Linked DNA regions of Homo sapiens. The protein of the gene in region 3 interacts with the protein of the main gene of each other region in a pairwise test. Each region holds a gene or a part of one and is shown on either strand. Other genes may lie near its edges. The genes, in order: CLN6, GAD2, LIME1 and PTPN9.

Region 1 (7,511 bases), on a different chromosome or scaffold from region 3:
CGGCTGCTGTATTTCCTGGAAAGCCAGGAAAGCCAGTCTGCAGGGAGAAAGAGAGAAGGATGACATGGAAACAGTGTTGTGGGTGGTGCCTTCCTGGGCTCCCAAAGTCCCAGCACCATTCTCAGTTCCTGAGGCCCAACTGCATCCTTATGCTTAGGTTCCCTAAGACACCCCTAAATCCTTGTAATAGAAATCCCCTTTTGTCATCAACCTGTCCCCCGTTGCTTCTAGTAATCACAACCACAAGAATCTGAATTAAACACAACCTGGGGACCTTCTCTCTCCCCACAGTGTGACTTCTGGTCACCCTCCCAGCTTCTTCAGCCAGATGGGGAGTGTCCTGCAGGCAATACCAGTTGACACAGAAAGACAGTCTCCATCTTCCCCCAGTGCCCCAGTCCCTTGCTGTCTGTCCTTGTGCAGCCTTCTCACTGTGCACAGTCTTGTTGCCCACACTTAGAGATCCCCTAGTCAGGCCCCTCCTGGCTGCCTCTCTCCAAAGTAACTGAGTTTTCCTGGTCCCACTTCGTCTGTCTGCCTTCTGGAGTCCCAGCCTCTGGATCCAGGATTCTGTGTGTCATGTCTCTCAGATGGTAGCTGCAGTCTAGCAGGGGCCTTCAAAGCCTTCTGGTGGCAGGGCAGTGTGGGAAGATGTTTTGAAGAAAGAGAAATTTTCAAAAGCTCTTAAGAGACTGGATAGAAAGGGTACTGGATTAGGAGTGGAGACTGGATTCTGGCCTGGCTTGGCTTCTAACTCGCTGTGTGGCTTTAGGCTTCATTTTCCGCAGCTGCAGAATGATGAAATTAGGCAAGATCAAAGGCTTTCCAGGGAGCCCTTTGGAGGTGACTTGGCCACGGCCTTGTAACCATAAGGGGAGAAGAGATGGCACCTGGGACCCTGCTTCTCTTCACTCAGGGCACCACCCCCCCCACCCCCCCGTAGGTGTTTCATACATTGAGCATGCTGGAAAGATCTTTGTCTTAGCCCAGGTTTCCAAAGAAGCAGAGCAGGGCAGCATGTATGCTAACACTGTATTGGGGAGTGTGGTGGCTGGGAAGGGGAAGTGAGGACAAGGGGGAGTGAGACAGAGGAGAAGGGAGGGCACACAAGAGAGTGCACTGCGGAGCTGGCCACCACTCCGTCTGGAAGGATGCTAGACCTTACAGGACCTTCTTTATTATTTATTTATTTATTTTGAGACTGAGCCTTGCTCTGTCGCCCAGACTAGAGTGCAGTGGCGTGATCTCGGCTCACTGCAACCTCTGCCTCCTGGGTTCATGCAATTTCTCCTGCCTCAGCCTCCCAAGTAGCTGGGATTACAGGCACATGCCACGACACCCAGTTCGTTTTTGTATTTTTAGTAGAGACAGGGTTTCACCATGTTGGTCAGGCTGGTCTTGAACTCCTGACCTCACGTGGTCCACCCACCTTGGCCTCCCAACGTGCTGGGATTACAGGTGTGAGCCACTGCGCATGGCCCAGGACCTTCTTTAAAGTGGCTGTGTGAACTCGGAACTCAGGCCAGTCTGTCCAGAAAGAGGAAGAGAGAAAAATTTATTTGCTAATCCCTGTCTCTTGCTGGTCAAAGTTCACTCCATGGAGTGTCCAACACTCCTGCACTTCTGAGGCCAAGGGTGTGGGGCCAAGGGGAGAGGAGGTGCAGTTGACTTCTGCCTGGGTGAAGTCAGTTGTCACAGCAGCTGGACAAAACAAGTGGCAAGGAGCTGGAAGACTGGTGTGTCTAACGGATCTTAGGCGATACATTTAAAAGTATCTGATACAGGCCTGGTGCAGTGGCTCACGCCTGCAATCCCAGCACTTTGAGAGACTAAGGCGGGCAGATCACAAGGTCAGTAGATCAAGACCAGCCTGGCTAACATGGTGAAACCCCGTCTCTACTAAAAATATAAAAAATTAGCCAGGCGTGGTGGTGCATGCCTGTAGTCCCAGCTACTTGGGAGGGTGAGGCAGGAGAATCACTTGAACCAGGGAGGCAGAGGTTGCAGCAAGCCGAGATCGTGCCATTGCACTCCAGCCTGGGCGACAGAGCAAGACTCCGTCTCAAAAAAAAAAAAAAATATCGGATACAGCTATAATTGAAAAGTAGTGGGAACCTCTACTAAAAGAAAAGTCAAAACCACCAAGATGCATAATACCAAAGGACCTTCTCAGCTGAAAGATTTCTTGATGCTGGCCACTGAAATTGCAGCTCAGAGAGCTGAGACTAGACTCCCTTCTGATGTGCAGGGCCCATGTTCTCAGATAATCACAAACAAGATCCTGCAAATGTGTACCCCTCAGCTTTACTCTATCCTCCTCCCCCAAATTTCCATGCAATTTAAAGAGCTAATGAAGATGGTGTTTTTAAAGTGTCCTGGTGGGATGGGAAAGAGAGGGGGCTGATAATCCCACCGGACAGGGAGAATTCTCATCTTGTTCATTCAGAAAGGCCCAGCCCCCTGCCAGGTTGGACTCCCCTCCCCTCAAGGGGTAGCAGCGGACTCCAGAAAAAAGGCAGATGTGTTTGTATTTAAGAGATTGGAGGATTAAATGAGCTAGAGAGGCTCCCTCCACACGGCCTCATCCTCTGATGGCTGGAAGCCCACCTCTGAGTGTTATTAAATCGATGATGACATCATGGGCACTGCATGCCCCTCCCTCTGGAGCCCAGCAGGCTTGCAAAGCCTGCAGAGGATAAGAAATTGGGGTCAGAGCGGGAAGCCTCAATCCTTCTTCTCTGGTGTATACCGAGATCGATGTGTAGATCAGATTCACCAGAATTAAATCTGGGGCCCCGTCTGAGTGCTGTCCTTGGCTGACCCTTGGGCACAGTACTTCAGCTCAGGGCCTAGGTTTTTCTCTGCTACAAAACAGAGACAATCACCTGTTCTCCTTACGACCTGGTGTGTGTGGATCAAATGAAACAAGGAAAGCTTTAAAGCAAATGTGTTCTTCAGGGGACCAGGGGCGGAGGGGGGGGATTGAGGTGTGGCCTGTGGGCTGCTAGAGCCCAGGATGGGGCTGATGGAAAATGACTCCCAGGCAGGCAGTCCTAGCCTCCCACAGCCAAGAAAGGACATGCAGGTTCTGACCAAAGGGGAAAGAAATAAATCCAATAAACATCTCCCAAGAAGAAAGACAGGAAAGAAAATAGAATGGAAATAGGCATAGCTCAGACCCCTCATGGTCTGGGAAGCAGACCAAGGATACTGGGCAGGGGAATGGCACATTGCATTTGCATCTGAGGCACATCCCTTCCAAGAGGCACATCCCTTCTGCAGCGGCTTGAGGGCTGGGTGAGAGGAGACAGGACTGGAGACCTGCACATGTCGTGTGCGCCTGGTGTAGCACGGGGGTGGTGGGGAGAATGGGAGTTGGTTGCAGTTGTTCTAGTTAGCGGCCTGGGCTGCTGACAGTGACCGTGGGGAGGAGAGAGTTTGTGACATTGACAGTGGTGTGGAAGGTAACCTTTCTGTGGAGGGAAACCTCAGGTCTCGAGACGGGCTATTGTAAATAACTTAGTCCACCAGTGCTGGGCTCTCTGCTAAGAGTTTCATATAGTCATCACAACTCCAATGTAGTAGATGCAATAGGCATCTTCTTGTTACAGATGAGTAAACTGAAGCTGTGAGGGGTTGAGCCATTTGCCCGCATCACAGCTAGTTCAAAGTGGTACCACTAATGAAGTCCTGGCAATCTGCCCTGCAGGCTGTTCTCAGGTTTGACCTTTGGTTCTGTTTTTCACTTGAGGATGCTGTCCCCTTAGGTTCTGTCTGTCTTGTATGCTCCGGTGACTCACGAGCCTGTCCACTGGGTTCCCAGGTCTCGCCTCAGCTTCAGACCACCGGTCCAACAGCCTTCCTGACCCACCTCAAGCTTAATGCGTTCAAAGATGAATCTTTATTTACACGAAATCTGCTCTAGCCCACTTCCCGGGGGGTGCCTCCACTATCCACCCAGGGGCAGAATCCGGCCACTGCCTGAACTCTTCTCCCCTCACCCCCCACATCCAGAGTCCCAGTCACCATACCTCTCACACGACTCTAGATGTCACCAACTCGCTCCTTCCCACTGTCACCGCCAGCCCCTCACTAGAACATCTGCAACCCACGTGCTGCACCACGCGGGTGCTACACGTGCAGGTCTCCAGTCCTGCCTCCTCTCCTCCACCCGTAAGAACAAGGGAAATCCCACAGAACCCTCTGCCCCGGGGAGCATTTAAATCAGCTTAGTCTATCTCCAGGTCGCTACCCCGCCCCAGCCCAACACCCAGGCCTCAGTCACCCTAGACAGAGATTCCCGTACCCAGGCAGGCAAGGGACCCTAACACATCCCAGCCCGCTGGTGGTCACGCGCGCAGCCCGGACAGGCCAGCAGCCCCCGCCCCGCGAGGACGCCACACTCGCAGCGCCCGGCCCTCCCCTAGCGGAGCCCGCCCCGTCTCCCTCCGCCCCGCCTCCCTCCGCTCCGCTCCGCTCCGCTCCGCCCCGCCCCGGGTCCGCAGCCCCGCCTGTTCCTCCCGAGGGCCGCGCGCTCTCGCCGGCCCGCCCCGAACCGCCCCGCGCTGGGAATTTGCGGCGGCCTCCGCCGGGGCAGCCGAGCTGAACCGGTCTCTTCCTCGGAAAGGCAGGGCCGAGGGGCCTGCGGGGCAGCCATGGAGGCGACGCGGAGGCGGCAGCACCTGGGAGCGACGGGCGGCCCAGGCGCGCAGCTGGGCGCCTCCTTCCTGCAGGCCAGGTGGGCGCGCGCCGGGGTGAGAGGGCGGGCTAGGCGCCTGTGCGCTGGGGCCTCGGGACCCGCCACGTGACGCTCCTAGGGCTGCCGGGCGGGAACCTCGTGTGCGGCGCTGGCCGGGGCGGAGCGGAGCGCGGGGGGCTTGGAGGCGCGCTACCGTGGCGGCGGTGCCCCCGCGTTTCCTTCTCTGTCTGGGGAGCCTGGGGCCCAGCGGGGCTCGGCCTCCCCGCTTCGCCGTTGCTCGGGTGGGAGGAGCGCCCGCCCGAAGTTTGGGGTTTTCCTCCCTTCCCGCGTTCCAGCGACCCGGGCTGGCGCCGGGACAGCCGCTGCGCTGGGAGAGCTCCCCAGGGCGGTGGGTACACACACCTCGTCACTCGGACCCCCAACTTATCCGCAAGTTCCGGGCGCCACCTCCGCGTTCTCGGGGTCCCTCCAGCCCTGAGTAGGACTTGATTCTGTCATTTATCAGGAGGCTGTCTGCTTGACCTGGGGCACCCAAGAATGTGCGAATGTAATGGAAGAGACAGCGGGGAAGGGCGGAAGCTGCCGTCCAGAGAATGAATGAGGAGCCCTTCTCAGTTTTTGGTTTATCTCGTTGGGCGAGCAGAGCTCCATTCTACCTTCGTCCCGTTTTACTGACCAGAAACATTCACTGCATTCAGCAGGCATTCTTTAAGCGCCTGTGGTATGCCCAGCGCTGTGCCAGGCAGTAAGGGGGTAGGCAGGGTGAAGGTGGGAGAGGCTTACGGTCCTGTAGGGATCAGGAGAGACAGAGCCCAAGTGGGAGTGAGCGGTCATCTTGGAGGGCTTCATGGAGGAAGTGGCACTTGAGCTGAGTCTCAGAGGACTTGGTAGGGGACCCAGGGAAGACAGGCTGTTCCATCCAGGGAAACAGTGGGGAAGGGCAAGGAGTTTAGTGGTGCTGGAGCTTTCCGGCTGTAAAAGAAAGTGACAGGAGGATGCAGACTGATTGTGAAGGGCCTTTAATTGCAGCAAGTCTAGGACTCGAGTTGAGGACCTAGATTGCAAAACTTAGGGGTAGGCGCACTGCCGTGACCGTGAGTGCCGCCTCAAATGTTGGGCCTTGGAGGCCTTGCTTGTCTCACCCTAGTTCCTGTCCTAGGTGACAGGTTAAGGACACAGTCTTTATCCCATAGGCACTGGGGAGTCGTGAGAAGTTTCTGAGCACTAGCATGCGCAAAGTCCTTGTTAGGAAGTTTTTGGTACGACCTGGATGAAGGGAGAAGTCTGAGCGCTTGGGCTGAGGTGAGGGATGGCTCGTTTCTGCTGCTGCGGACATGCGGGCTGAGCAGCTGCGGACTGTGTCCGTTTTCACTTAGAAACAATGTACTGGCCATAGACCGCATACTGTAGCTCACCTGTCTCCCTCGGCCTGTGAGTTAAGTATTATTTTACTGATGAGGAAATAGGCTTAGATGGGCTGAGGAGCCTGACTGGCTGAGTCCCCGGGCTGTCTGCCCCACGCCGTGTCCAGTGGTTTCATCTCTGCTGTGACCCAACCCATTTACCAGCTCCCCTCTTCCAGGCAGCCTCTTCTGCCTGCGGGATGTCTCTGTTCCGAATCCTTGCCAAGTTGGGGGTCACTGACTGCCCTGAACTGTGACAGCCCAATGGGAACAGCCTGTGGGTCTCAGATAGGGTCACCACTTTATCTCCTGTGTGGGGCTCCCATGTCTAGCATCTTACTCAGTCTTGACAATGAGCTGCCAGATGTCACTTCCAATGTACAGATGGGGAAATGGAGGCCCAAAGAGGTTACATCATTTGCTGGCAAGAACCAGGGCCTAAACCCAGGGTTTCTGACTTACGGGCTCTGCTCTTACGACTCCACTTTGGCTGCTAAGGAGTCATGTCCCTCTTCCCCTGTGTGAGCTCCCCACCAGCCAGGGTATTCCCAGGGGGGTGGTGTGAGGGTGGGAGCTCTCTGTCTCCCAGGGTGTCTCTGCCCCCCACAATGTGGCTTCAGCCCATTCCCAGTATCATTGCTGCTCAAGAGAGTAGGCAGAATCATCCTGTCCAGTTCCTAGGATGCTTGGATTTCCTCTGCTGCATCCGTGCTTTGCTCACTACCTCTTAAGGTAACCCATTCCAACGTCCACCTGCTTTGTTGCCAGTTTTTGTATTATAATGAAAGTGTTACAATTAGGCCGGGTGCCATGGCTCACGCCTGTAATCCCAGCACTTTGGGAGGCCAAGGTGGGTGGATCACTTGAGTCCAGGAGTTCGAGACCAGCCTGGCCAACATGGAGAATCCCCGTCTCTACTAAAAAATACAAAAATTATCCAGGTGTGATGGCCCATGCCTGTAATCCCAGCTACTCAGGAGGCTGAGGCACCAGGATCCCTTGAGCCTGGGAGGCGGAGGTTGTAGTGAGCCGAGATGGCGCCACTGCACTCCAGCCTGGATGACAGTGAGACTGTCTCAAAAAAAAAAAAAAGTAAAAAAAGAAAAGAAAAGAAAGTATTATAATTAGTGCCCGTGATAAATCAAATAGCAAAGGCTTCAAGTTTTAAAAAGTAGTAATCCCTGTCCCACTCTTCCCTAGCACCAGAGACAATCACCCTAGCTTCTTTTAGCTCTTTTTTCCAGAGTCAAATTCCTATTTCCAAATAATATGTTTATAACAATAAAAAACACTAGCACTTTTTATGGATCAGGCCCTGCTCTTAAGTTTTTGCATGTATTAATTAAACCACGACCCTTGAGATACGATCTACTGGCCAGGTGTGGTGGCTCATGCCTGTAATCCCAGCA
Region 2 (7,021 bases), on a different chromosome or scaffold from region 3:
TTAAAATTACATCTCCCCCCCACCTTTTTTTTTTTTTTTTTGAAATGGAGTCTTGCTCTGTTGCCCAGGCTGGAGTGCAGTGGCGTGATCTCAGCTCACTGCAGCCTCCATCTCCCAGGTTCAAGCGATTCTCCTACATTCCCTTTTCAGGCCTGCAGGAATAACTTCATTTATAACAACCAAGGTTTCATAGCAAATCTCTGTGTTTGTATGTAGTCATACAAATAGTCAGTTTTCCTTGTGGTTTTTTTATGATTAGCTTTTCTAATTAAAAATGTGGATAACAGAGGGACTGGCAAATGGCTGTGAAAAAAAATACCAGGAAAAAAATATTAAAGGGAAATGGACATCTGGCATCCTTTGCTGAAAATGAATGTTTACTTTCTCTCTAAAATATTAATTTATTTTAACAAGTAGATATTCAGCATCTATTATCGTGTCTAGTACTGAATGGGATAAGAAGGCTCTCATTTTCCAGACAAGATAAGATAAATGCACAGAAATCCATCATAAAAGACAGATTAGGACTGATCACAAAAGAAATCCAGACACATCTGGGGAATTTAAAGGACGGAGAGCTCATTCCTGGTTTAAGAATCAAGATGATTCACAAAGAGATGACCTTTGAGATAGGACTTGAACAGGATAGGTAGAAGAAGTAGGATTTCACCCAGCAGTGCTGTGAGAAGGCCATTCCACGGAGTGGTTGAGCAGGAGTTCAGTGCATATTATGAAAGTGAGGGAAAGTCTAATTGACTGAAGGGCGACTTGGGAGCTATGTTCCAGGTGAAAAGTAACAGAGCCTGAACTAGGGTGATAGCAGCAAAAATTGAGATAACAGCAAGGGATTCGGTAGTTATTTCAAAAGCACTGTCTCTGGGGCCTGTGAATGTTTATAAAAGCATTTCAAGAAGTGGAGAATGATCATGACCAGCTCTCAAGATGTCAAACCCCAAGACCACATAGAGGCAGCAGCTGAACACTTGGATGGTGAGATTGCTGAAGTATTTAATGAATGAAAGAATTTTGAAGAATCTCCTAAAAGCCTTCAAAACCTTGAAAATAAAATGTGGATCTTAATCCCATAAATATTCAATATGAACGGGAGGCACCCAGGGCACACTAGAGTTTTCTGTGTCATTCCCCATGTATATCTTTAGCCCCCAACTAAAGGGGCAGTCACATGGCCCATGATCATCCCCATAGCAAGGTCCCAGACCAGGGGAACCAGAGGTCTTTAGTAATCCCATTGCTGTTGCAGTGCAAACTCTTCTTCATGGGAAATCAGAGAGGCATCATCATTCCCATCTGATCAGAGAGTTGGCCAAAGCCATTCATCTGGACAGGGTCAGAGGCAAGCTGGTCATGCCATATCCTAGATCAGATATGCAAAAGTTTAAACCCAACTCCAGACTGGTCCAAAGGATCCAGGTTGGAGAAGAGCAATTAGCTTCCCTCACTTCTACCTACAGTCCATCCCAAGTGAACCCAAACTGTCAGGTCATTCCAAACCAATTATAATCTCCTTAGCACCCATAGATGCAGAGAGCTCCTGGTATGGGTGCTGGCCAAGCATCAGGCATCAGCCCAAGCTCTTCTTGGGGAGGCATCAGGAACCCATCAGCCTCCTTGAGCCGATTACCTGGGGGAGCAGTCTCCAAAGAAGTGAATTTCTGAACCCATTTGATATCTCCAGGGCAGCTTGTTCTTAAACCTGCTTCAGATGTCACAAGTCACTGGGCTATGTTGGGCCCCCTTAGCTGAGATGATGTGATCTTGTATGAAACAGGCAAGTGGGCCCATCTCATCTCCATTACAATTGCTTTCTCTAGGTTCTCTGCTGGAGAAGTTACTGGTAGGCAGGTTCAAAGTGCTTCTGAGATGAGCACTGGCTTTTACTCTTAAGCTTTCTCCATCAGCACCCAGTAAACACCCAAGGAGATAAGAGGAAAGCCATTTTGAAAAGTAACTCTCTTGTGTGTCCCGATGTCAGTTAAACAGCTCCAGTCCAAGACTGTTGTGTTGGTTTTCCCAAGTCTGGATTCAGAGCTTCCAGAGCCAGAAACTAAAAGAAATCAGTGATAATGTTCACCCATTACAGACACGTGAGTCATTTATCTGCCCCCAAAGGAGAACTGTACAGAGCTCGACAGGCTAACAAAGCATCTGGGTGCTCCCTAAAATTCCTGCATCCATTTGTTCAATGAAGTCAGTGAGCACCTACCCAATTTTTTCTGTATCAGGTACACTGGCAGACAAAGATGGGCTCTGGGAATGGAAAATGTGCACGTTGGAGGGGAACTAAGCAGGCATTCTGGGGGGTCTCTGGTGATGCTTTTTATCTGCAGGAAGAGAGTAGCTCAGCCCTCCTGTTATTAATGACTTCCATGATTATTCCTATGAATAGCAGAGGCACATTTTCCTCTTGAGTAGTCAAACTAATTGCCTGGGGAATGGAGGCTCTGGAAGAAAAGGAGTTCCGTGTAGAAAGCAGTAATGAAAGGGAACAAAAGCACCTGACGGGGAGAGCATTGAAGAGAAAATAGCGCTGAAAAAGCCTTTGGAAACAGCCTTGTGTTGAGAAAGTGCCAGACGGGGCTAAGACAGAGACGGCAGGATGACGGTCAGTCTCCAGGGAAATCGCTTCCTCCGCACTCTTAGCCTGCTTAATGAGCTGTGTCCTTCTCTTACCTAGGGGACTACCGGGTTTGAAGCGCATGTTGATAAATGTTTGGAGTTGGCAGAGTATTTATACAACATCATAAAAAACCGAGAAGGATATGAGATGGTGTTTGATGGGAAGGTATGTATTTGGATTTCTACAATCTCAGAAAGTTTAGTCAATTCCAACCCTCATCACTGATATGATGTAAATGATGTGCTGTCCAGGTAAGTGGGACGATTACAGAGGGGAGCAGTGGATGACGGGGTAGCTATTCCAAGCTGGAATAAAGACGAAACTCTCAAAGTGGTCCATATAACGTTGTCAAAATCATGCCCTCCAATGGCAATTCCTGATTGAAAAGTGGGAATTGTGTTCTGAACCTGCTGAATACATCGATTTGAAATGTTCTTGGAATTTTCAAAATTGCCAGCCTGGGCCAAATGTGAATCTTCCTTTCCTCTTTGTAGCCTCAGCACACAAATGTCTGCTTCTGGTACATTCCTCCAAGCTTGCGTACTCTGGAAGACAATGAAGAGAGAATGAGTCGCCTCTCGAAGGTCAGTGCTCCAAGCTCCTCTGATACATGTGTGTATTGAGCCTTTCATGTGCACATCTTCTTTATGACATATGCCTGTGGCCTTAGGAGACAGCCTACCTGGGTACATGGGCCCATTCCCGTCTGTGGACTCCTACAGAGCCAGGACATATAGAGCCTGATATATGCAGACATTTTTCTTCTTTTTTTTTTTTTTTTTTTTTTTGAGATGGAGTCTCACTGTGTCTTCCAGGTTGCAGTGCAGTGGCGTGATCTCAGCTCACTGCATCCTCCACCTCCCGGGTTCAAGCGATTCTCCTGCCTCAGCCTCCCGAGTAGCTGGGAATACAGGCACTCACCACCACGCCCAGACAATTTTTGTATTTTTAGTAGAGATGGGGTTTCAATATGTTGGCCAGGCTGGTCTCGAACTCCTGACCTCAGGTGATCTGCCCACCTTGGCCTCCCAAAGTGCTGAGATTACAGGCATGAGCCACTGTGCCCGGCCTATGCAGACTTTTAACAACTCTATTTGCTTGTTTTCTGAGAGTGAGTTTATGATGTCTTGAAAGAAGTAGTCAGGCGATAACCTTTGCTGGCATTCACAAAGCAACAAGGACGTTGCTGAAGTTCATTGATGTTCCAAGTGAAACTGGTGCTCAGTTACAAGCACAAAAGAGACTTTAGGTACCAGAAATGGTTAGCAAACAACGCTGCTGCTGACCCTCTTGAGCTGCCAAGGTCAAGGCTACCCTGGGTGTGTCCTTAGAGCTGTGGTGACCCCTAGAAGGTAAGAGGGCAAAGAGCAATAATAACAGCCACTGTTTTGAGTGTGCATTGTGTCCCAGCTCAATATCAGGTGTTAGGTCACTTAAAGCCTCAGAGCAACCTGACATGGGAAGGATTGTCCACCCATCTTGCTGATGGAGAAACTGACCCACAGGGAGAAAATGTAACTCCCAAAATCTCGCAGAAAGTCTGCATCCGAGCCTAAGGGCTTGAGCTTTAAATGGTACTGTGGTAAGACACCATTAATCTTTCATCCTCTCCTGCTCCCAGCACTTATACATGGGTGAAATGGGGTTTACAGTGCACATCGAAGCGGGGTATATGCAGGACCTGTCCCCCATTCGAAACTAGGGATGGTCATGTAGACTTGGATCTCAGAGTTGATTTGGTTGGTTTGGGGGTTCTTTTCATTTATCATAAAAGAGGGAACCTCCTCCAGTCACTGCCAAGAGCCCCGCAGGCTGTCCCCTCACTGCTCAGGAGCTTGGGCTGTCTCACTGACCTTTGGGAACACTTTAGTTCCTTCTACGTAAAATGAAGAAGAGGATTTTGTGTAGATATAAAACCTTCACTAAAGCTTTTATGTGTTAACATCTGTCCTTAAGCAACCCAAGATCAAACTCCTCATCGGGAGGAAACTTCCATATGGCTGAGGTCTTTAAACCAAGCCTCCTAATTAGAGTAGTGATTTGCAATCCTGGCCATACATTAGAATCATCCAGAAACTTCATAAAAGACACTAGTGACCAGGTCTCACCCTGAAAATGTAATCAGATTGTGCTTGGATGGGCCTGGGAATGATTCTGGAAGTTATCTAGATGATTCCAATGTGCACCTCAGCTAGAGAACCCCTGATCTAGAGGAAAAAATGGAAGAAAGCTTCTAGAACCAGGATCCGTGGTGCATGTGTCTGAGATGGAAGGGGCTGTGGTTGTGTTTGATGATTTCGTGAAGTTGGTTCATTCCAGGAAATCAAGCCCACAGGGTGGGAGGGAATGAGTAGAGGTCGCATTGGATAAGATGATCGGTGCAGGCAATAACAACGAGAATAGGGGGTGCGGGTGTCTGCTGTCATTTGAGAGGAAAAAATTCTTATTTTTCCTGGAATTTTTATGGTATACCTTCATAATGTAAAATTTCTTAACAATGACTTATTTAACCAGTTAGAAATTAGATGCCTCCATTCTTTTTGGCTTTCACTTCCTTATTGAACTGACTGGCCAGAAAGAGAATCCATGGACTAGTTTGGCTGATTTCATTTGTTGAATCAGTCCATTATCACTGGGCTGAGGGATGGAGCAAGATGGGAATACAGAATAAAAACTTTTTTTTTTCATCATTTTCTGAACAAAAGTCAACTTGGAGGCTCCCCCTTTTAAATATCACTCTTCAAATGCCTCCTAGGTTTCAGCACCTCATATGAGCTGTAATGAAGAATGGGGATGGAGATTATTTCCTGGAGATGGCAATTAGAATATTAGTAAACTGTTTTTATACTGTTGACAATTCAAATATGAAAATCTCCGGGGATTGCAGAATGAATTCTCCTGATTTTTCTCCAATTTTATTACTGTAATCAAGAGAATTCAGCAATTCAGATTTGGAAATGAAAATAGAACCACATGAATACCAAGTTTAACTTTTGTTCACGTATGCCAATGATTTTTTCAGACTTTCTGGAAAGTTCTTTATTAAGTGTGACGCCCTTAAAGTATCATGTCCAGGAACCAGTAAAATATTCATACGCATGCACACACACACACACACACACACACACACACACACACACAGTCCCAGAGGGAAAAGAACTGAGGTGAAATAATCTATGCTGTCCAGTATGGTAGTAATAGCCACATGTGGCTATTCATATTTAAATTTAAATCAATTAAAATTAAATTCAACCAAAAATTTGGTTCTTCAATCACACTAGCCACATTTCAGTCACTCAACTTGTGCCCAATGGCTGTTTTATGGGACAGTGCAGATATAGAACATCTCCATCACTGCACAGAGTTCTGTTGGTCCAGGCCGATATAGACTCAAAATTTGGGGAAATGCAGAGTTTCCTGTGCAGTTTATGTGAACCAAAAGAACAAAGTTAAATTCTGGACAAGACAAGGCAGAGAAATTACTCTGTACCATCTTGCCTGATTCATAGCTGTAGTGCACAATAGGAACTCAAAAATCGTTTGTTGAGCTAAAATTGTATCTTAGCGTGGTTGAGCTGCAAAAACAGACTAATATAGACTGGGTAGCTTATAAGCACAGAAATTTATTTCTCACTGTTCTAGAGGCGGGGAAGTCCAAGATCAAGGTGCCAGTAGATTCCGTGTCTGCTGGAACCCCTACTTCCTGGTTCGTCAATGGCCTTTTTCTCCCTGTATCCTCACATGGCAGAAAGAGGTCAAGGGAGCTCTCTGGGGTCCCTAAGACTGTGCCTTCCTGAACTAATCACCTACCAAAGGCCCTATCTCCTAATATCATCACATTGAGGGGTTAAGATTTCAACATATAAATTTTGGGAGGACAGAAAAATTCAGTCTATAGCAAATACCTTAGGCATATTCCAGAATAAGGAAGGGAAACAACATTTAGGAAACCTAATAGTGGCTCATAAGCCTTTTTCCAGAGTGCACTATTTGGGGACAAATATCTGGATAACAGAAGTTATTAATAAAGCAAATACAGTCATATCTTCATGAGGGTGGTAAACACGAGAATCCAGTCAGTGTGCTTCCTGCTGCTCTGTCAGGACTATGATCTTGCAGATGGCGCTTTGTCCCTGAGGCAGTGCAGATGATGAATGCTTGGGGCACTATGAGGATGTGACGCCACACACATGCCTTGGACACAGGGAGGGGCAGCAAGTGGGCTGTGCCAATGTTTACCAAACAAGAATCAAAAGGGCTGGTCTATTGATCACCTCTTGTGTTTCTGGTTCTTTATCTTCTTATTTTAATTTTTTTTATTCTTGATCATTATCTGGTTCTGTCAGCTTTTATAGTCCTACACTGATTGGAGGACTTTTCAAA
Region 3 (7,630 bases):
GGTCGCTCCCGCGCTGGCCTAGGGAGGGAGGCCCGGCCCGGCACAGCTCCGAGGCCTCCGCCCACCTCGCGCGCCCGCGCGCCCCGCCGGGGAGGGCCCGTTCCCCACGGGCGCGCTCGCAGAGCTGCCAGAGCCGGGGAAGGGGCCGCGATTGCTTGGCGGGCTTCCCGGCAGCAGGTTACTCTTTAACGCTCGACTGCCCACCTCCACCACCCCTTATGTAACACCAGGCTGGGTGGCGGAGCCCTCCCGTGGAGTCCAGGGTCCAAGTCCCACCCGGGGGCGGCCACCCTGCCGGCTGCGCTGCCCCCTAGGAGTGGCTGGGACCCCGTGCCCGCACTGACCGAGAGTCTGGCCGGCAGGAGCACCGCCTCGGCTAGGCCCGGGCGCCCCGGGGGCAGCCAGTCCCCCAAGGCCAGAGGGGACAGCTCCAAGCCTTCCAGAGAAGCCCCCCGCCCCAACCCGCCCAGCTTTCAAGAAGAGCAGGCTGCGAGGCTGGCCGCTTTCATCCTGCGCTGGCGCTTTATTTAGACGCGGGCCTTCTCTGGAGCCCGGGGAGGCCGCGGCTGTCAGAGCGGCCAGGACCTCACGGACCTCACGGGCTGGCAGCCCGGGGACCTGGGACTGGCGCTGTCAGCTGTGAGGCGGGGCGGGGCGGGGGACGGGCCTCACTCTGGAGGAAGGAGCACAGGTCCTTGAGTGTTCAGGGCAGGGAGGCAGGGAGGGGTCTCCAGCCCCTCCCTAGGCTGGGGCAGCTGGAAGCAGGGGGCGTCCCAGCCCCGCACGTGCTGCTCCTGCCAGCAGGGTCCCCCAGCTCCCGGATGCTCTCATACACGTTTTCCAGGGGGCCGCTGTCCACATCCAGGGCCCTGAGCGGGAGGGTCTGGTAGGCCAGGTCACCCGCCAGGGCCAGAATCGCTCCCTGGCCCTTGGGGTCCAGCGGGTCTGTGGTGGGTCCTGGGTCCCTCCTTTTAGGCTTGCAGACCCTGGAGTACAGGACGTCCACCTGGAGACAGGAAGCCAACCCGAGGAGGGGTCAGCACCATCCAACCTGCTGAGGATCTGCCGGCCCCACCCACAGCGCCCTACCCTGGCCCACGTTACCTGAGCGGCCGGGGTCACCTCAGTCTTCCCCTGCTGTGGCTCTTGGGGACTGCGATGGGTCCCTTTGCGCTTCTGGACGCGGGCATACTCGGCCACCACAGGGCTGGCCGCCAGGCTGACCCCGGGAAGGGCCGCCAGCCCCACGTTGGAATAGGTGGCCTCGAGGCCAGCGCACCCTGCGGTGGCTGCAGCTGCCGGCAGAGCCCGGGGCAGCTCCTGGTGTGGGAAGGCAGAGGGGGCTGCCTGCGGTCCGGTGATGTCCCTGGACACCTCCAGCCAGTGTGGGCGCAGGAGATCCATGCTGGCAGGCCGCAGGGCTGGGGGTGGGGTCAGGGCAGAGTTCACTCCGGGCAGGGGGCAGGAGCGGGTCTGGCCCAGGGGTTGGCACGCGCTGCACAGTAAGCCCCGCCCGGCCGCCCCCGCCCCGCCCTCTGCTCACCCCTGCTGCTGCGCGGGCCCCGGTGCAGCTCGTGCAGTCTGGTGTCCGACTTGCTGAGGGAGCAGAGGTGGGTCCGCCTCAGTAGGGACTGGGGGCGAGGAAGGCTGGTCGGTGCCCTGCGGACCCCACCCTGGTCCCCGGGACAGCCTGGCACTCACCGCTTCCGCCGCCGTCGCACTGCCCTGCAGCCTCGCCCGCTGCCTCCGCGCCCTCTTCCTGGGGGCTACAGCGTCCTCGGGCCTTGGGGGTAGAGGTGGGGGGCGGGGGGCGGGGTCGTCAGCCTCGGGTCCAAGGCCCGGTGCAGGCGCGCGTGCCGAGCTGGGTGCGCGGACCTGCCTCCAGCCCCTTCCCGCGCTGGGCTGTGAATGGCAGCCGCAGCGAGGCCCCAGACAGAACGCGGCTGAGGGACCTACCTGCGGCAGGCTGTGCACAGCGCCCACAGCGAGAGGAGCAGGGCGCAGCACCCTAGAACCCAGAGGGCAGGAGGGGCCCAGGACACTGGCAGCCCCATCCTGTGAAGCCGAGGCCCTGGGGACAGAAGAAAGGGGCGCTGGGGGCTGGCCAAGGGGACCTGGCGCCACCTGGCAGCCCCAAATCTGCACCTCCCGCGGCTGCGGGGCTCCTGCGTCTCCCGTTCCAGCTCTGACTCAGCACAGGAAGCCCCAAGGCCTGGCAGTCCCTCCCTCCCAGAGGTGCCCACCTTCTGGCGGGGGCTCCCGGTGAGGTGAACTAGGGCTGCTCTGCCTGGCCCCTCCGTGTCCCTGCGGGTGACCACGGTAACACCCAGCACGGCCGTGAGGAGGGGCAAGACAGCTGTGGCCACCATAGCCCAGATAGTAACCAGCATCGGGGGAGCCCCTGGGTGTGCGCCACAGGCCACAGACTCCACCTGCAGCCACCCTCTGCCCAGACATGGTCTCCTGTGTCAGGTAGTGCCCCCAAGCCGCTCGCTGCGGAGCCCAGAACTGGGAAGAGCTGGAGGCTGGTCAGCAGGAGGGACCCTGCACCCGGAGGAGCTGGAGGCTGGGTCAGCAGGCAGCAGCAGCTGCTGGGGGTGCTGATGCCCCCACCCCACTTCTCTCTGGCTCTTCTTGTCTGCCAGTGTCTCTGCCAGAGAGGATCTGTCCCCTTCTTGGGGATCTTAGCAGAACTTCTCGGGGTGGGGGATGCCTTACAAACAGCACAGTCCAGCAGCAGAGACAGAAGCTGGGGGGTGAGGGGTGGTCTCTGGAGTTTGGGGCCAGTCTGCTCAGACCCAGGGAGTGGGCTTCAGCCTGGCTGACTGACCCAGCTGCAGCCACATCCCAAGGCCTCCCAGACCCCAGCTGCCCCCCAGGAGGGCACTTACCAAGCCCACGGCCAGGGGTCCTCAGCTCTGTCTGGGGCAGGCCAGGAAGGTCTTTGTGCAGCCCTCGGCTGAGCTCCCCACCTCATCACTTCCTGCTCCTGTCGCCAAGCGCCTCCCCTGAGCCTCCCACCCTGGGCAGCAGCCACCACCGCAGCCTCACCCACCTGCTGCGCCCCGCCCGAAGCCTAGATGAAACGTGTGCGCCTCTAGCCCGCACTGTTCTGACAGCCTAACTCACAACCCCTCCACACACGAAGACGTGAGCAGAGCTGGCACAGAACCCCCAAACCCACAGGGCCAGGTCCGCCTGCCTCACCAAGAGTGCCCCACGTGGTGGGCCACAGTCCTCTCCCGCCCGTCTCGCCCGCTGGAGCAGCACTGAGCTCCACCCATCTGTGGGTGTCAGGCAGCCTGGCGGGCACCCTGGCCTCCGATCTGCCTTGGTCAGAGAAGGGTAAGAAGGGAGAATGCCGGCCTCCTAGGCCCCTCCAGCCCAGCCCGTCTCTCACCACAGCCCTGCACAGACCCTTCTCTCCCCAGAGACCCTGCAGCCAGCTGATCTCCACTGAATGACACTGTGATGAAATCACTTTAATGTCCTTGCCAAGGAAATGCCCAAGACACTGGCAGGTGGGCAAGTAAGTGTCCAGATGGGACCCCGCAGCTCTGTCTCCACTCAGCAGTGTCTGCACGCCCCAGGCCAGCAGGCCGGCCCCTCCTCGGGCAACACTGGTCTTCCTGAGGGCAGCCCGTGCTGGGGTCCCACGCTTCGTCCATAGTGCTTGTGGGGTCTCTAGAACTCAGTCATCTTCTTGTGGGTGTCTGCCTTCCTCTGCTCCTGCTGCAGGCCGGCTTCCTGAGCCCGGAGCTGCCCCAGCTGGCGCTGGGCTCCTGCCAGCTTCTCCTGCAGCTGGGCTGACGCCACGCTATGCCTGCGGAGGGGCTCACTAGTCAGCGTGGGGTCCTGGGCCATGCCACCAACCCCAGTCTGCCGTACCCACTGCCTGTGTGCCCGCTGCCCGTCCTCCAACATGCAGACCCCTCCTGGACTCAGCCCGCTATGCTTGGGTCAGGTGACCTCCAGCATGTATCCCGGGGGCAGGGCCACCCTGGGTCGCCCTTTGCCCTGAGCTGGGCCCCACACGTACCGGCCAGCGTTGCGGGCGAGAGCCTCCTGGATGCTCCTGATGTCCCGCTGGGTTCGCTCGATCTTCTCCTCAGTCTGGAAGAGCCGCAGGCTCAGGGCCCGCTTGGCACTCTTGCTGGCATGGTACATGTCCTTGCTCCTCCTCCCCGCTGGGGCCGCCCCGGCTTCTAGGGCCCCAGGAGCCTGACCTTGCAGCTTTTCATTGAGGAAGTCAAACACATTCCGAGGAGCTGGGCGGCCCCCAGGCCTGGCCCCTCTTCCCCGGCACCTGGGGGGCTTGTTGGTGCCAGCCTTGCCAACCCTGGTCTGCTTCTGCAGGGTCTCCACACACTGGTCCAGCGACTTCCCTCGAGGCAACACCACAGCATGGATGGGCTCCACCCGGCCTTCCGCGTGTCGGCCCAAACCTGCGGAGGCACGGGGATGGCAGTGCTGTGGCTGCGGGACCCCGGGAATCTGAGGAGCACGGGGATGGCAGTGCTGTGGCCACGGGACCCCGGGAATCTGAGGAGCACGGAGATGGCAGTGCTGTGGCCGTAGGACCCTGGGAATCTGAGGAGCACGGGGATGGCAGTGCTGTGGCCGCGGGACCCCGGGAATCTGAGGAGCACGGGGATGGCAGTGCTGTGGCTGCGGGACCCTGGGAACCCGATGGCTGCGGGACCCCGGGAACCTGATGGCTGCTGGACCTGGGCTATGCTGCAGCAGCCTGCCCACTTCTCCAGGGCAGCTTGTACTCACCCTTGCCAAACTCATAGCCCATCTTGGTGAGGAGTCTGGAGCCTATACCTCGCGTGTGCACCTCCCAGCCAGCAAAGGCAGAGCTGCAGGTCCCAGAGTCCACAGCATCTGACCCCACCACTGCAAGAGACGGACAGAGGGCAGAGGACTGTGCAGAGTCCACGGCGTCCGACCCCACCACTGCAAGAGATGGACAGAGGGCAGTGGCCCAGCCAGGCCAGAGGATTGTGCATGGTGACCCGGGCTTTGACCAATGAGCTCAGATCCTGGGCAGAGCCACGACACCCCACCTCTTGGGCTCCGTGCTCTCGTCACCGAGGCTGCTGTGGGCATGTGACACCAGGCAGAGTGCATGGCAGTCCCCACGGCCTGCTGCACCGTGGCCCCTCCTCCGCAGCCCTCTCCTGCCCCTGCCCTTCTCCACCTTCGCGAGGCTGTGAGCGCCTCACCTGCCCTCACAGAGTCCTTGGTTCAGTCCTCCTTCACCAGGGACATGGGGCTTCAGAAACCACCATCACTGATCCCTGGGTACACCTCCAACATGCAGACCCCTCCTGGACTCAGCCCGCCATGCTTGGGTCAGGTGACCTCCCACATATATACACACACACGCACACGCATACACACACCCCTCTGGAGAGCTGGACACTGCCCACCAGTTCCCATTCCCGAAACTTCCATGCTGGCTGTCTGGACACAACCTCTGTCTGCCAGGATCCCAGGCACCCAGGTCCCAAGTCTGAGAAGCCATGCAGAGGAGCTGCCCCTCCTGCACTCCAGGCCCCATCAGTTGGTCATTTTCTGTGACTTCCTCGGCAACTCCAGGCCCCTCCTCTCCCATGGCCACAGCCACGACCATGGCCTCCCATCAATGAGACTGTAGCTGTTGCACCCACACTCCTTGAAGATAAAGGCCGCCACGGATCTACCCCTACCCACACGGCCTCCTCAGGCACAGGTGGCACCCTCGCCGCAGTCACACACTCTCCAATAGTTTGGTTAGATGGTTGGTGCCCTCACCGGCCAGGAGCCTCTCAGGGTGACCCCACCTTCCTGGCTCCTGGGCTCCGCAGCTGCTGCCATACCTCTGGCATAGCTGGAGTCACCCGTACCGTCGCTGTCTGAGTCGGACTCTGTGGCCTCTGTGCGCAGTGGGGGCAGGATGCCGTCCCCCTCCACCACGGCCTCCCTCAGCAGCAGCGAGTCAAACTTGACTGTGTAGTAGCCGTTGTCCACATCTGGGGGCAGAGACAAGCTGCAGGTCAGAATCCTTGACAGCAGGTGCCACTGAAGGGAACCACCCTGGACATGAGGAGCAAGGCAGGGCAGAGGCTGAGGGTAGGTGTGCTCATTTCGGGCCCAGAGCCAGAGTCCCGACACTCAACCCAAAGGAAGCAGGGAGCAGCCACACAGTGACAACACACGTGGGGCCTGGGAGGGTGTTCCCGGGAGGCCCCCACGGCCAGCCTCACCGGTGATGCGTGCTGCGTGCCAGAGGCCATCCTGGTGCTTGGCCAGACACGCAGAGCCGGCCTGCAGGGAGCTCAGGTCTGGGTCCTGGAAGGGGCGCAGCTCATCCAGAGAGACCACCTGCCCATGGGAGAACCTGCAGACAGAGCCGTAAGGGGCAGGGCTCAGACATGGGCCACCAGGGGCAAACCAACCCAGGAGCACTGACCCATCCGCCTGGGCACTGTCCTGAGGGAGACAGACACACACGCGTGCGTATACATACACACTCTCACACACTCACGCACACACATACACACGCACACATACACACACACATGCACACACTCACGCACACATACACACATGCACATATACACACGCACATACAGATACACATGCACACATACACTCACACATACACATATATACACACTTGTGCATATACATGCAGGCATATACACACACATGCATATACACACGTACACATACACGCATACGCACACGCGCATATACACATGTACACACACATGCACTCACACAGGCACACACAAGTACACATACACACGCATAAACATGCACTCACATGCATACACACACGCATATACATACGTACACAGGCATACACACACATATACAGACATACACATATACACATACACAAGTACACATGTATACACATGCATACACACATGCACACAGGCATATACACATGTACACACACATTAACACATGTACTCACACGTCATACACATACACAGAGACCCTGACACGCGTATAAACATGCACTCACACATGAACTCATGCAAATACAGATGCAGTCATACATGGATATACGCACACGCCATCTCACCCACACGCGCGCACACGTGCCCTCACCCACACACATACGCCCTCACCCACACACATGCGCACACAAGCACCCTTACCTACACACATGCGCACACATCTCTCACCCACACACACGCACACACAGGCCCTCACCCACACACATGCGCGCACACACACCCTGACACATGCACACACACACCTCACCCACACACGTGCACACACATGCCCCCTCACCCACACACATGCACACACACACGCCCTCACCCACACACATGCGACCTCTCATCCACACACACGTGCACGCACACATGCACCCGCACCCAAACATGCACACACAGATGCACCCGCACCCACACATGCACACACATATGCAGTCACCCACACGCGCACACACATGCACCCTCACGTGTAGACTGTCACGTGCACTCACTCATATATGCATATACACATACATGCACACACATGGCATGCATATACACACATGCATATACACACTCACACTTGCATACACACGTAGTCTCTTGGTATCCATGGGAAACCCCCTGTGCAAACCAAAATCCAAGGATGCTCA
Region 4 (7,021 bases), on a different chromosome or scaffold from region 3:
CAGCATGCAGCGATGCTGGGAAGCCTTGTTAATAATATAAAGCTTTTGTTCACTACATCGTCCTTTCAGAAGATGTATAACAGTGTCCCTAATTCCAGGAGTGAATTTTATATACATTCTGGGAGTTCACACTTTTATCTGGCAAATTCATAGGACTTAAATCTCAGGCAGATGAAATGTAGTCTACTACTTTTACAAGTATACCTTGTATTTCAAGAAAATCTTATCCCATCCTCCAAACCTGATATAAATACATTTATTCTTTGTCACTCTATATGCCTTTCCCTCCTCCCACATACTCACATGGTTCTTTCTAACCTTCCAGATTCAAATATTAAAGACATCTGAGGTCACGCAGCATCTGCCCAGGGAGTGTCTTCCAGAAAACCTGGGTGGGTACGTCAAAATTGATCTCGCCACTTGGAATTTCCAGTTCCTACCCCAGGTGAACGGCCACCCAGATCCCTTCGATGAGATCATCCTGTTCTCCCTCCCTCCTGCCTTAGACTGGGACTCAGTACATGTTCCAGGTCCCCATGCTATGACCATCCAAGAGTTGGTGGACTATGTTAATGCCAGGCAAAAGCAAGGAATCTATGAGGAATATGAAGACATTCGTCGTGAGAACCCTGTTGGCACTTTCCACTGTTCCATGTAAGTAGAAAAAGTTTGGGCCAGCAGCTGGTTACCAGGATGCTTCTGGTAGGCTCTGGCAACAGCTCCTTCCACCCCTCACTTGCTTAGCAGAGACCCTTCCTTATGTTAGGGAACATCACTCTCACATAAATGATGGTTTCTCGCATGCAGAAAGAGGTACTTTCTGCTTTGGTGCTTCTTTTTTTTTTTCTTTTTTTTTTAAATTTTTATTTTTTTTATTGATCATTCTTGGGTGTTTCTCGCAGAGGGGGATTTGGCAGGGTCATAGGACAATAGTGGAGGGAAGGTTGGCAGATAAACAAGTGAACAAAGGTCTCTGGTTTTCCTAGGCAGAGGACCCTGCGGCCTTCCGCAGTGTTTGTGTCCCTGGGTACTTGAGATTAGGGAGTGGTGATGATTCTTAACGAGCATGCTGCCTTCAAGCATCTGTTTAACAAAGCACATCTTGCACCGCCCTTAATCCATTTAACCCTGAGTGGACACAGCACATGTTTCAGAGAGCACAGGGTTGGGGGTAAGGTCACCGATCAACAGGATCCCAAGGCAGAAGAATTTATCTTAGTACAGAACAAAATGAAAAGTCTCCCATGTCTACTTTCTACACAGACACGGCAACCATCCGATTTCTCAATCTTTTCCCCACCTTTCCCCCCTTTCTATTCCACAAAACCGCCATTGTCATCCTGGCCCGTTCTCAATGAGCTGTTGGGTACACCTCCCAGACGAGGTGGTGGCTGGGCAGAGGGGCTCCTCACTTCCTAGTAGGGGTGGCTGGGCAGAGGTGCCCCTCACCTCCCGGACGGGGTGGCTGGCCAGACCCCCCCACCTCCCTCCCGGACGGGGCGGCTGGCCAGGCGGGGGGCTGACCCCCCCACCTCCCTCCCGGACGGGGCGGCTGGCCGGGCAGAGGGGCTCCTCACTTCCCAGTAGGGGCGGCCGGGCAGAGGCGCCCCTCACCTCCCGGGCGGGGGGCTGACCCCCCCACCTCCCTCCCGGACAGGGCGGCTGGCCGGGCGGGGGGCTGACCCCCCCACCTCCCTCCCAGACGGGGCGGCTGGCCGGGCAGAGGGGCTCCTCACTTCCCAGTAGGGGCGGCAGGGCAGAGGCGCCCCTCACCTCCTGGACGGGGCGGCTGGCTGGGCGGGGGGCTGACCCCCCCCACCTCCCTCCCGGACGTGGGGCTGACCCCTCCACCTCCCTCCCGGACCGGGCGGCTGGCCGGGCGGGGGGCTGATCCCCCCACCTCCCTCCCGGACGGGTCGGCTGGCCGGGCGGGGGGCTGAGCCCCCCACCTCCCTCCCGGACGGGGTGGCTGGCCCGGCAGAGGGGCTCCTCACTTCCCAGTAGGGGCGGCTGGGCAGAGGCGCCCCTCACCTCCCGGACGGGGCGGCTGGCCGGGCAGGGGGCTGACCTCACCTCCCTCCCGGACGGGGCGGCTGGCCGGGCGGGGGGCTGACCCCCCCGACCTCCCTCCCGGACATGGGGCTGACCCCCCCACCTCCCTCCCGGACGGGGCGGCTGTCCGGGCGGGGGGCTGACCTCCCCACCTCCCTCCCGGACGGGGCGGCTGTCCGGGCGGGGTGCTGATCCCCCCACCTCCCTCCCGGACGGGTCGGCTGGCCGGGCGGGGGGCTGAGCCCCCCACCTCCCTCCCGGACGGGGCGGCTGGCCCGGCAGAGGGGCTCCTCACTTCCCAGTAGGGGCGGCTGGGCAGAGGCGCCCCTCACCTCCCGGACGGGGCGGCTGGCCGGGCGGGGGGCTGACCCCACCTCCCTCCCGGACGGGGCGGCTGGCCGGGCGGAGGGCTGACCCCCCCTCACCTCCCTCCCGGACGGGGCGGCTGGCCGGGCGGGGGGCTGACCCCCCCACCTCCCTCCCGGACGGGGGGCTGACCCCCCCCCCACCTCCCTCCCGGATGGGGCGGCTGGCCGGGTTGGGGGCTGACTCCCCCACCTCCCTCCCGGACGGGGTGGCTGGCCAGGCAGAGGGGCTCCTCACTTCCCAGTAGGGGCGGCTGGGCAGAGGCGCCCCTCACCTCCCGGACGGGGCGGCTGGCCGGGCGGGGGGCTGACCCCCCCACCTCCCTCCCGGACGGAGCGGCTGGCCGGGCGGGGGGCTGACCCCCCCACCTCCCTCCCGGACGGGGCGGCTGCCGGGCGGAGACGCTCCTCACTTCCCAGACGGGGTGGCTGCCGGGCAGAGGGACTCCTCACTTCTCAGACGGGGCGGCTGCCGGGCGGAGGGGCTCCTCACTTCTCAGATGGGGCGGATGCTGGGCGGAGGGTCTCCTCACTTCTCAGACGGGGCGGCTGGGCAGAGACGCTCCTCACCTCCCAGACGGGGTCGCGACCGGGCAGAGGAGCTCCTCACATCCCAGACGGGGCAGCGGGGCAGAGGCGCTCCCCACATCTCAGACGATGGGCGGCCGGGCAGAGATGCTCCTCACTTCCCAGATGGGATGGCTGCCGGGAAGAGGCGCTCCTCACTTCCTAGATGGGATGGCGGCCGGGCAGAGACGCTCCTCACTTTCCAGACTGGGCAGCCAGGCAGAGGGGCTCCTCACGTCCCAGACGATGGGCGGCCAGGCAGAGACGCTCCTCACTTCCCAGACGGGGTGGTGGCCGGGCAGAGGCTGCAATCTCGGCACTTTGGGAGGCCAAGGCAGGCGGCTGGGAGATGGAGGTTGTAGTGAGCTGAGATCACGCCACTGCACTCCAGCCTGGGCACCATTGGGTGCTTCTTGCTAACATCCTATGCTCTGAAATTTCTGAAGGTCTTTGGTACCAACAGGATAACCCTGTTGGACATATTTTTGGATATTTTTCTGAAATGCAAGTTTTTTTTAAAAAAAGTAGGTTCAAAATAGGCTACTCTCTATTCCAGTACTCAGTGTGAGTGCTGGTCTGTTCATTTGGGCAGTTTCTCCCCATAACATTTATGGTATAACATTACTTCTTGAGGAGGGGTATGTGGTACACTTAAAATAATCCACAGTCAGAGAGTACAGTTGCCTCATAGGACTTTAACCCCTTGAGATTTTCATTCTACTCAAATCCTATCACAAAACCATCTCGCTAGTTTATAACTCTGGCTCGTAACTAGTTGATAACTATATATACATACATACATATATATATACACACCCACACACAAATTAGCTGGGTGTGGTGGCGCACACCTGTAATTCCTTCCTTCCTCCCTCCCTCTCTTTTTTTTTTCTTTCTGAGATGGAGTCTCGTTCTGTCACCCAGGCTGGAGTGCAATGGCACGATCTCGGCTCACTGCAACCTCCGCCTCCCAGGTTCAAGCGATTCTTCCTGCCTCACCCTCCCAAGTAGCTGGAATTATAGGCGCGCACCACCATGCCTGGCTAATTTTTGTATTTTTAGTAGAGACAGGGTTTCACGATGTTGTCCAGGTTGATCTTGAACTCCTGACCTCAGGTGATCTGCCTGCCTCAGCCTCCCGAAGTGCTGGGATTACAGGTATGATCTACCGCACCTGGCCTCTTTTTCTTTTTTCTCTTCTCTTCTTTTCTTCTTCTCTTCTCCTTTTCTTTTCTTTTATCCTTTTCTTTTCCTCAAATTCCTAGGTTAAAGCGATCCTCCTACTTCAGCCTCCTGAGTAGCTGGGACTACAGGTATGTGCCACTATGTCCAGCTCATTTTTTATTTTTTGAAGAGATGGGGTTTTGGCATGTTGCCCAGGCTGGTCTCAAACTCCGAGGCTCAAGTGATCCTCCTGCCTCAACCTCCCAAAGTGTTGGGATTACAGGTGTGAGCCACCGCACCTGGTCAGATTATTTCTCTTACCATGTTGCTGTCATTTCTCTTACCATGTTTTAATTGGCTGCCCCAGAAATCTCTTTCTCTCCAGCTAGTGAGCTGTGACTGTTGAAAACTACAGAAACTAGGGCTGGGGGCAGTGGCTCATGCCTATAATCCCAGCACTTTGGGAGTAAAGGTATAGGAGGATCATTTGTGCCCAGGAGTTTGAGACTAACCTGAGCAGCATAGCAAGACCCTACCTCTACAAAAATAAAAAACGAAAAAATTAGCCAGGCATGGTGGCACACTCCTGTTGTCCCAGCTATGCAGGAGGATCACTTGAGCCCGGGAGGTCAAGACCACAGTGAGTTATGATCACGCCACTGAGCTCCAGCCTAAGTGACAGAGTAAGACTTTGTCTAAGGAAAAAAAAAAAAAAAGAAAGAAAGAAAAGAAGAGGAAAAAAAAAAAAGAAAGAAAATGAGGGAAGCCATCCTAGTGGGTCCCAGCCTCATATTCCAACTTAACCAAAAATTCCCTCTGTGAGTGACACAAGTTATTTCCCTTCTCAGCACTTTGGTTTTCCTCTGTATAATATGTGACTACTGGACTCTGATATTCACCTACCTTTGTAGCTTAAATGTTTTAGAAATCTAGGATTCTGTGAGTACCTCTTCTCTCTTGTAACTCCTGTCCAGTGTAGTCAGTGTGTTCTGAATAAGATGCAGGGATAGAGTCTTTTAGCAAAGCAAAGAGGGAAAATAATGAGTTGGGGAAAATAATGAGATAGGGAAAGTAAGAGATAAGAGGCACTTGAGAAAGAAGTCAATCAGATCAAGAATGCAAAGGAAAATAAGAGGAGAAAAAGGGGACACAGACCATATATCAACAAGGGAAATTATTCTTTTCTCTCATACAGCTCTGTTTCTTCCCTACCAGCTCCAGACCCCTATTTTTATTTAATTTTTATTTCATTTTACTTATTGTATTTATTATTTTATTATTATTATTTTTTTTAGAGACAGGGTCTTGCTCTGTCCCCCAGACTGGCGCATAGTGGCATGATCATGGCTCACTGCAGCCTCCATCTCTTGATGCTCAATTGATCCTCCTGCCTCAGCCTCTTGAGTAGCTGAGACCACAGACATGCACCACCATGCCTGGCTAATTTTTTAAATTTTTTGTAGAGTCTCCCTATGTTGCCCAGGCTGGTCTTGAACCCCTGGGCTCAAGTGATCCTCCTGCCTCAGCCTTCCAAAGTGCTGGAATTATGGGTGCTACCTATACCCAACTACCAGACTCCCTGTTTATATCCAATCTCTTTTGCAAACAGAACAGTTATTCCCTTAAAGTCTTTTTTGTTGTTGTTGAGACAGTCTCACTCCATCACCCAGGCTGGAGTGCAATGGTATGATTTCGGCCCACTGCAACCTCCGCCTTGTGGGTTCAAGCCATTCTGTGCCTTAGTCTCCCAAGTAGATGGAATTACAGGTGTGTGCCACCACACCCAACTAATTTGTGTGTGTATATATATGTGTGTGTGTGTGTGTGTGTGTGTGTATGTATGTTTGTTTATTTATTTATTTATTTATTTTGAGACAGAGTCTCACTCTCGGCCAGGCTAGAGTGCAGTGCCACGATCTCAGCCCACTGCAACCTCCATCTCCCGGCTCAAGCAATTCTCCTGCCTCAGCCTCCTGAGTAGCTGGGATTACAGGCGTGTGCCACCACACCCGGTTAATTTTGTATTTTTAGTAGAGATGGGGTTTCACTGTGTTGGCCAGGCTGGTCTCAAACTCCTGACCTCGGGTGATTCGTCCTCCTTGGCTTCCCAAAGTGCTAGGATTACAGGCGTGAGCCACCATGCCTGGCCTAATTTGTGTATTTTTAGTAGAGATGGGGTTTTGCCATGTTGGCCAGGCTGATCTCGAACTCCTGACCTCAAGTGATCTGCCCACCTCAGCCCTGCAAAGTGCTGGGATTACAGGCATGAGCCACTATGCCCAGCCTCCCTTGCAGTCTTGAATCAAGGAAATATGTTGGAGCAGGGAGGCATGCTAGGCTGATCTAAGAGGATGCACACTTATCCTGGGGATTCTTCACCTTGCTCTCGGTGCTTTTGCAACTACCAGCTGCTGTGAGGCCCTTGAGATGTCATTTCTACTATGGAGTCTCCCCTCCTCCATTAAAAAAGTGGGTTTGGCTGGGCGCGGTGGCTCACGCCTGTAATCGCAGCACTTTGGGAGGTTGAGGCTGGCAGATCACGAGGTCAAGAGATTGAGAACATCCTGGCCAACATGGTGAAACCCCGTCTCTTCTAATAATACAAAAATTAGCTGGGTGTGGTGGCACGCACCTGTAGTCCCAGCTACTTGGGAGGCTGAGGCAGGAGAATCACTTGAGCCCAGGAGGCGGAGGTTGCTGTGAGCCAAGATCATGCCACCGCACTCCAGCCTGGGCGATAGAGCAAGACTCTGTCTCAAAAAAAAAAAAAAAAAAAAAAAAGTGGGTTTAGATCGTCTTGTTGCCATCATCCAAACCAGCTACCATTTGACAATCAGAGAACAGATCTCTCATCTAATGAGAGGACTTCCTAG

The links.
Region 1: the proteins of LIME1 (region 3) and CLN6 interact in binary tests that used the Homo sapiens proteins (3 or more experiments, as listed by UniProt).
Region 2: the proteins of LIME1 (region 3) and GAD2 interact in binary tests that used the Homo sapiens proteins (3 or more experiments, as listed by UniProt).
Region 4: the proteins of LIME1 (region 3) and PTPN9 interact in binary tests that used the Homo sapiens proteins (3 or more experiments, as listed by UniProt).

The regions. Positions count from the first base shown.
Region 1 is NC_000015.10:68,226,729-68,234,239, reverse strand, and holds the start of CLN6 (ceroid-lipofuscinosis neuronal protein 6), read left to right. Parts: upstream 1-4,511; 5' UTR 4,512-4,655; coding exon 4,656-4,738; intron 4,739-7,511.
Region 2 is NC_000010.11:26,289,770-26,296,790, forward strand, and holds part of GAD2 (glutamate decarboxylase 2), read left to right. Parts: intron 1-2,695; coding exon 2,696-2,803; intron 2,804-3,132; coding exon 3,133-3,222; intron 3,223-7,021. UniProt on the Homo sapiens protein: Catalyzes the production of GABA.
Region 3 is NC_000020.11:63,731,974-63,739,603, reverse strand, and holds LIME1 (lck-interacting transmembrane adapter 1), read right to left. Parts: upstream 2,941-7,630; 5' UTR 2,892-2,940; intron 2,072-2,891; 5' UTR 2,055-2,071; coding exon 1,957-2,054; intron 1,784-1,956; coding exon 1,702-1,783; intron 1,632-1,701; coding exon 1,544-1,631; intron 1,422-1,543; coding exon 1,105-1,421; intron 1,007-1,104; coding exon 704-1,006; 3' UTR 501-703; downstream 1-500. Other genes in the region: ZGPAT (zinc finger CCCH-type with G patch domain-containing protein), read right to left, coding at 3,685-3,823, 4,040-4,445, 4,780-4,959, 5,865-6,017, 6,252-6,385.
Region 4 is NC_000015.10:75,499,308-75,506,328, reverse strand, and holds part of PTPN9 (tyrosine-protein phosphatase non-receptor type 9), read left to right. Parts: intron 1-325; coding exon 326-654; intron 655-3,289; exon of another isoform or gene 3,290-3,326; intron 3,327-6,939; exon of another isoform or gene 6,940-7,021. UniProt on the Homo sapiens protein: Protein-tyrosine phosphatase that could participate in the transfer of hydrophobic ligands or in functions of the Golgi apparatus.